2 separate regions of the Homo sapiens genome follow, and region 1 is linked to region 2. Evidence: fine-mapped expression QTL. A gene starts in region 2. The other region holds a variant in brackets. All regions are shown on one strand. Distances are between the middles of the regions.

Region 1 (2,907 bases), 65 kb before region 2:
ATGGCCATTCTCACCTCTTAAGGCTGCTTTTCTTTGCAAGCTCCTTATGCTCCACACATTTCCCTCTTTCTAGTTACTATTGCTTGGTAACAAATCACTCCAAAATATGGTGGCCCAAAACAACAACAGTCATCCTATTATTTTTCACTGTGTCTGTGGTCAGAGTTTTGGGAAGGACCCAACTGGGCAGTTCTGACTTGGAATTTCATATGGTTGCAGTCACTTGGCAGCTGAAACTGGAACAGGGAAGCAGCTGGGGGTGGATGGATCTCTCTCTCTCTCTCTTTCTCTTACTCTCTCCCCACTCCATGTTGTCTCAGGGCTTCTCAATGTGGTCTCTCCACGCGAACTGGTTTGGGCTCCCTCACATCATGACAGCCTCTGGGCAGTTGGACTTACATGGCAGCTTCGGCATCCAGTACAAGTGTTTTATGAAAGTAGCAGCCGCGACTGGGTGCGGTTGCTCACGCCTGTAATCCCAACACTTTGGGAGCTTGAGGCAGGTGGATCACCTGAGGTCGGGAGTCCAAGACCAGCCTGGAAAACATGGTGAAATCCCGTCTCTACTAAAAATACAAAAATTAGCTGGGCATGGTAGCACGGGCCTGCGGTCCCAGCTACTCAGGAGGCTGAGGCAGGAGAATCGCTTGAACCTGGGAGGCGGAGGTTGCAGTGAGCCGAGATCACGCCACTGCACTCCAGCCTGGGCGACAGAGTGAGACTCCATCGAAATGAAAGAAAGAAAGAGAAAGAGAGAAAGAGAGAAAGAAAGAAGGAAGGAAAGAAAGAAAGAGAGAGAAAGAAAGAAAGGAGGGAAGGAGGGAGGGAAGGAGGGAAGGAAGGAAGGAAGGAAGGAAAGAAGGAAAGGAAGGGGCCTTATCTCTTCTGATCTAGCCTTGGAATCATGCAGCATTACTTCTGCCACATAGTCTTGGTTACAAGCAAGTCACAAACTGCCTAGATGTAAGGGGAGCTTACACAAATTCCACTTCCCAATGGAAGGGGTATCAAAGTTCTAGAGGAATATATGGGCTGGGAAACATTGTTGCCACCATCTTTGGAAGTTACATCTGGCTTTTACTGGTACTGATTTAAGACCCACCTCTATACAGCCTGTGCCCAATAACATCCACCTGGGCACAGCTCCAACTCCCTGTTCTAAACAGAAATAGTTTATTGAGAAATCTCAATCCCTTGGGATCAAAAACATGACAGTTTCCATTTGTTCTGCAGTGACTGCTCTCTACCTGCTATCTATTGTTTTCCAAGACTATGATCCAAAATCACAGCATCCAAGACTGTGTCTTTTTTATTTATTTATTGTTTTCGAGACAGGGTCTCACTCTGTCGCCCAGACTGTAGTGCAGTGGCGCAATCTCCACTCACCGCAACCTCTGCCTCCCAGGCTCAAGAGATTCTCCTGCCTCAGCCTCCTG[C/A]GTAGCTGGGATTACAGGTGCACACCACTACTGCCTGGCTAATTTTTGAATTTTCAGTAGAGACAGGGTTTCACCATGTTGGCCAGGCTGGTCTTGAACTCCTGACCTCAAATGATCCACCCACCTTGGCCTCACAAAGTGCTGGGATTACAGGCATGAGCCACCACAGCTGGCCCCAAGACTGTGTCTTTATTATTATTATTATTTCGAGACAGAGTCTAGCTCTGTCTCCTAGGCTGGAGTGCAGTGGTGCGATCTCAGCTCACTGAAACCTTCACCTTGCCAGTTCAAGCCATTCTCGTGCCTCAGCCTCCGGAGTAGCTGGGATTACAGGCACGCACCACTACACCCGGCTAATTTTCGTATTTTCAGTAGGGACGGGGTTTCCCCATATTGGCCAGGCTGGTCTTGAACTCCTGACCTCAAGTGATCCACCCACCTCGGCCTCCCAAAGGTGGCTCACAGAAGTGAGCCACCACGCCCGGCCTGTCTATTATTTTTATTTTTAAAAATAAATGTATTGTTAATTTCCTTTTTCCTGTTGGATAAAGGCTACAGGGAAACTTAATGACAATTTTGCTAGAGTCTTTAATATTTCTCTCATTTTCATTCATTTAAAAACATAGCCTTCAGGCCAGGCACGGTGGCTCACACCTATAATCCCAGCACTTTGGGAGGCCGAGGCAGGTGGATCACTTGAGGTCAGGAGTTCAAGACCAGCCTGGCCAACATGGTGAAACCCCGTCTCTACTAAAAATACAAAAATTTAAAAATTAGCCGGGCATAGTGGCATGTGCCTGTAGTCCCAGCTACTCAGGAGGCTGAGGCAGGAGAATCACCTGAACCCAGGAGGTGGAGGTTGCAGTGAGCTGAGATCGCACCACTGCACTCCAGCCTGAGCGACAGAGTGAGACTCGGTCTCAAACAAACAAATACACAAAAAAACCCACAAAGTTCATGGGGAGGGAAAGGTGTAGCCTCTCTTGAGAACTTTCCTCTCTCATTTTCCCCCCAAACAGGATGATGCTTCCTTTCTCTTCTCTATCCTTTTCTGGACAGCCTTGGGTCCTCTCAGTAACTTATTTGGGTAAGTGGCTGGTTATAATGGCAGTGACCTCGAACTTAGGCTCTGGGGTAGTTGGCCACTTTTGTCCTCAGTTTTGGGCAGTAGTAGCAATTCTGGAAGTTCTGGGAAAAATCCAATTTGACATCATAGTACGAACCTGAAGGAAAGGTCTTGATCCCAAAGAGCTCTCGGCAGCTCATGGCTGTGACTGTCATCCAGGGCCTGGGCCTGGGGAAATGTTTGGGGATCTGTGGGATCCTTTAGGGACTGTCACAGTGACTCGGGAAATGTTGCTATAGGCAACTGTTCTGGAACTTTTTGGTCTTAGGACTCTTTTACATTCTTAATAGTATCAAGGACCCCAAACAGCTTTTATTTGTGTGGGTTATAACTTTTTTTTTTTTT
Region 2 (2,907 bases):
TTGGCATCCCAGAAAACCACCTCCCATCCTATCTTTCTTTCTCTGTGTGTGTGTGTGTGTGTGTGTGTGCGCGCGCGCGTTGGAAAGCCTGCTCTCCCCACAACAGGCTGACTCACCCACTTCTCACAGTCTGGAATAGAGGCATCTGGTTGGGGCATCTTTCCCACCACTGGGAGAGGGAGGGATGCCGATGCTTCCCCCACAGAACCCCGCTGCCCCAACCCCTCTTGTCGGGAATCAGGCCTCTTTGTCTCTATTCCCGTACTGTGTGACCTCAGAAAAGCCCTCATCCCTCTCTGGACTTCTCCTTCCCAACCTGTATGAGGTACTAGGTGGGCTCCTGCCTTCGATTTCTCTCATTGGTCTGTGAAAAGGTGACTCATTTTAGAGCCTTGGACCTGTGCCCAATGTCTCCCCCAGTTGACTCAATTTCAAGACAAACCACCTCCTCTCCCCCTTCAGAGGTGAACGGCTGACTCAGGAGCTGGGTGGCAGCTCAGCCTTGGGGGCAAAATATATCAAAATCACCTAGGACAATAAATAATCCTACTGGGCTACAACTGACAGTGCCAGGCCCGGGGCCACATGCTTCACATACATGAGATCATGTCAGATAGCCCCGTAGCTGCAAGCAAAGGGTAGAGGCCGGCAGATCTCTGAGCCTCTGTTCTCACGTGTAAAATGGAGCCCTGGCATCCCTATTGTTCAGCCTTGGAGAATGAACTGAAATCGTGTCAGGGTCTGATACAGAACAAGTACTCTATACATGACAGAGATTTCTTACGGAAAATCCAATGGAGCGTAAGTCATTTGCTCAGGGTAGCGGAGCTGGGAACTGGCAGAGGAAGGTCTCGAACCCACACCCGTGGGAACTCCAAGTCTTTGAAAGTCCGTCCCGCCCCTGCGTGAAGAATGGGCGCGCGGCTGGACTCGTCACCGGGGGTTTTAGGGAAGGTTGAACTTGTCATTCAACCGTGTAGGGAGGGTGGTTTAGTCACAGGGGTGGAGGGAGGGGGCCCACTGGCGCGCCACCAGGACCCCGGTGCCCTAGATGCATACCTGGCCGCGCTTCGGATGCTCAGAGGCAAACCCCCTCCCCTTGGGAGGCGGAGTCGGACAAGGCTCCGTCTCGTTCCGTTCCGTCACGTCCGGTGGGGCGGGGCTTCGGGGCTTTCCCCTTTGAGGGGAGTATCGGTTAACCCTTGCGCGGCGGGGCGGGCTGGAGCTCCGCGGGCCGGAACCCGGGAGTCGGGGCTCCCCAGCCACACCCCTCGCGGGATTTAAAGGGATAGGAGGGGCCGGGTCGGCCGAAGCCCGAACCGAAGGAGCGGGCATGAGGCGCTGCCCGTGCCGTGGGAGCCTGAACGAGGCGGAGGCCGGGGCGCTGCCCGCGGCGGCCCGCATGGGACTGGAGGCGCCGCGAGGAGGGCGGCGGCGGCAGCCGGGACAGCAGCGACCTGGGCCCGGCGCAGGGGCCCCGGCGGGGCGGCCGGAGGGGGGCGGGCCCTGGGCCCGGACAGAGGGGTCCAGCCTCCACAGCGAGCCTGAGAGGGCCGGCCTCGGGCCTGCGCCGGGGACAGAGAGTCCGCAGGCAGAATTCTGGACAGACGGACAGACTGAGCCCGCGGCAGCTGGCCTTGGAGTAGAGACCGAGAGGCCCAAGCAAAAGACGGAGCCAGACAGGTCCAGCCTCCGGACGCATCTAGAATGGAGCTGGTCAGAGCTGGAGACGACTTGTCTTTGGACGGAGACCGGGACAGATGGCCTTTGGACTGATCCGCACAGGTCCGACCTCCAGTTTCAGCCCGAGGAGGCCAGCCCCTGGACACAGCCAGGGGTTCATGGGCCCTGGACAGAGCTGGAAACGCATGGGTCACAGACTCAGCCAGAGAGGGTCAAGTCCTGGGCTGATAACCTCTGGACCCACCAGAACAGTTCCAGCCTCCAGACTCACCCAGAAGGAGCCTGTCCCTCAAAAGAGCCAAGTGCTGATGGCTCCTGGAAAGAATTGTATACTGATGGCTCCAGGACACAACAGGATATTGAAGGTCCCTGGACAGAGCCATATACTGATGGCTCCCAGAAAAAACAGGATACTGAAGCAGCCAGGAAACAGCCTGGCACTGGTGGTTTCCAAATACAACAGGATACTGATGGCTCCTGGACACAACCTAGCACTGACGGTTCCCAGACAGCACCTGGGACAGACTGCCTCTTGGGAGAGCCTGAGGATGGCCCATTAGAGGAACCAGAGCCTGGAGAATTGCTGACTCACCTGTACTCTCACCTGAAGTGTAGCCCCCTGTGCCCTGTGCCCCGCCTCATCATTACCCCTGAGACCCCTGAGCCTGAGGCCCAGCCAGTGGGACCCCCCTCCCGGGTTGAGGGGGGCAGCGGCGGCTTCTCCTCTGCCTCTTCTTTCGACGAGTCTGAGGATGACGTGGTGGCCGGGGGCGGAGGTGCCAGCGATCCCGAGGACAGGTCTGGGGTGAGTGGGACCCATCCTGCCCTTGAGCCACATCACGCAAAACTCCTTATTCCTCCGCCTTTGCTTAGGAAGTTCTCTACCCATTTACTGTTAGTTGCCCACCAGCAATTTCATCTCCGGGAACCTCTTCCATCCACTGACCTCCTCCCTCTGACAGCCAGGTTACTAATTCACTCCAGGCACCCCTTCTTAATTCTCTCCTTTCCCCTTCCTGCACTGTCTCCACTCCTGGGGGTCTACAATGGAGGGCCACTGACCGACTTTATGGGGCCCAGGAACCCCTGAAATTGTAGGACTAAGGAGCCTGCCGTGCGTGTTCACATACATTGTTGCAGCGACGGTCTGACATCTGTCTAATCCTCTGGAATCTGAAGAACACTGGGATAGGGAGACAGGCAGGGTGCACTTTCTACCCCACA

Evidence for each region. PIP is the estimated chance that this variant, and not a neighbour inherited with it, causes the effect.
Region 1: its variant is the best candidate, but not a certain one, in a credible set for the expression of ITPKC in whole blood (INTERVAL, PIP 0.58).

What each region holds. Positions count from the first base shown.
Region 1 is chr19:40,650,750-40,653,656 of GRCh38, forward strand. No RefSeq gene overlaps it. Among named protein-coding and RNA genes, the nearest start is that of NUMBL, 38 kb to the right of the region's middle. RefSeq lists an enhancer at 1,489-1,538. The variant C/A (reference allele first, on the strand shown) is at 1,437.
Region 2 is chr19:40,715,803-40,718,709 of GRCh38, forward strand. ITPKC (inositol-trisphosphate 3-kinase C) reads left to right here and starts at 1,310. Exons shown (of 7, transcript NM_025194.3): 1 at 1,310-2,488. The coding sequence starts at 1,334. COQ8B (coenzyme Q8B) reads right to left here and starts at 1,084. Exons shown (of 15, transcript NM_024876.4): 1 at 785-1,084. RefSeq lists an enhancer at 551-630 and a silencer at 1,201-1,560.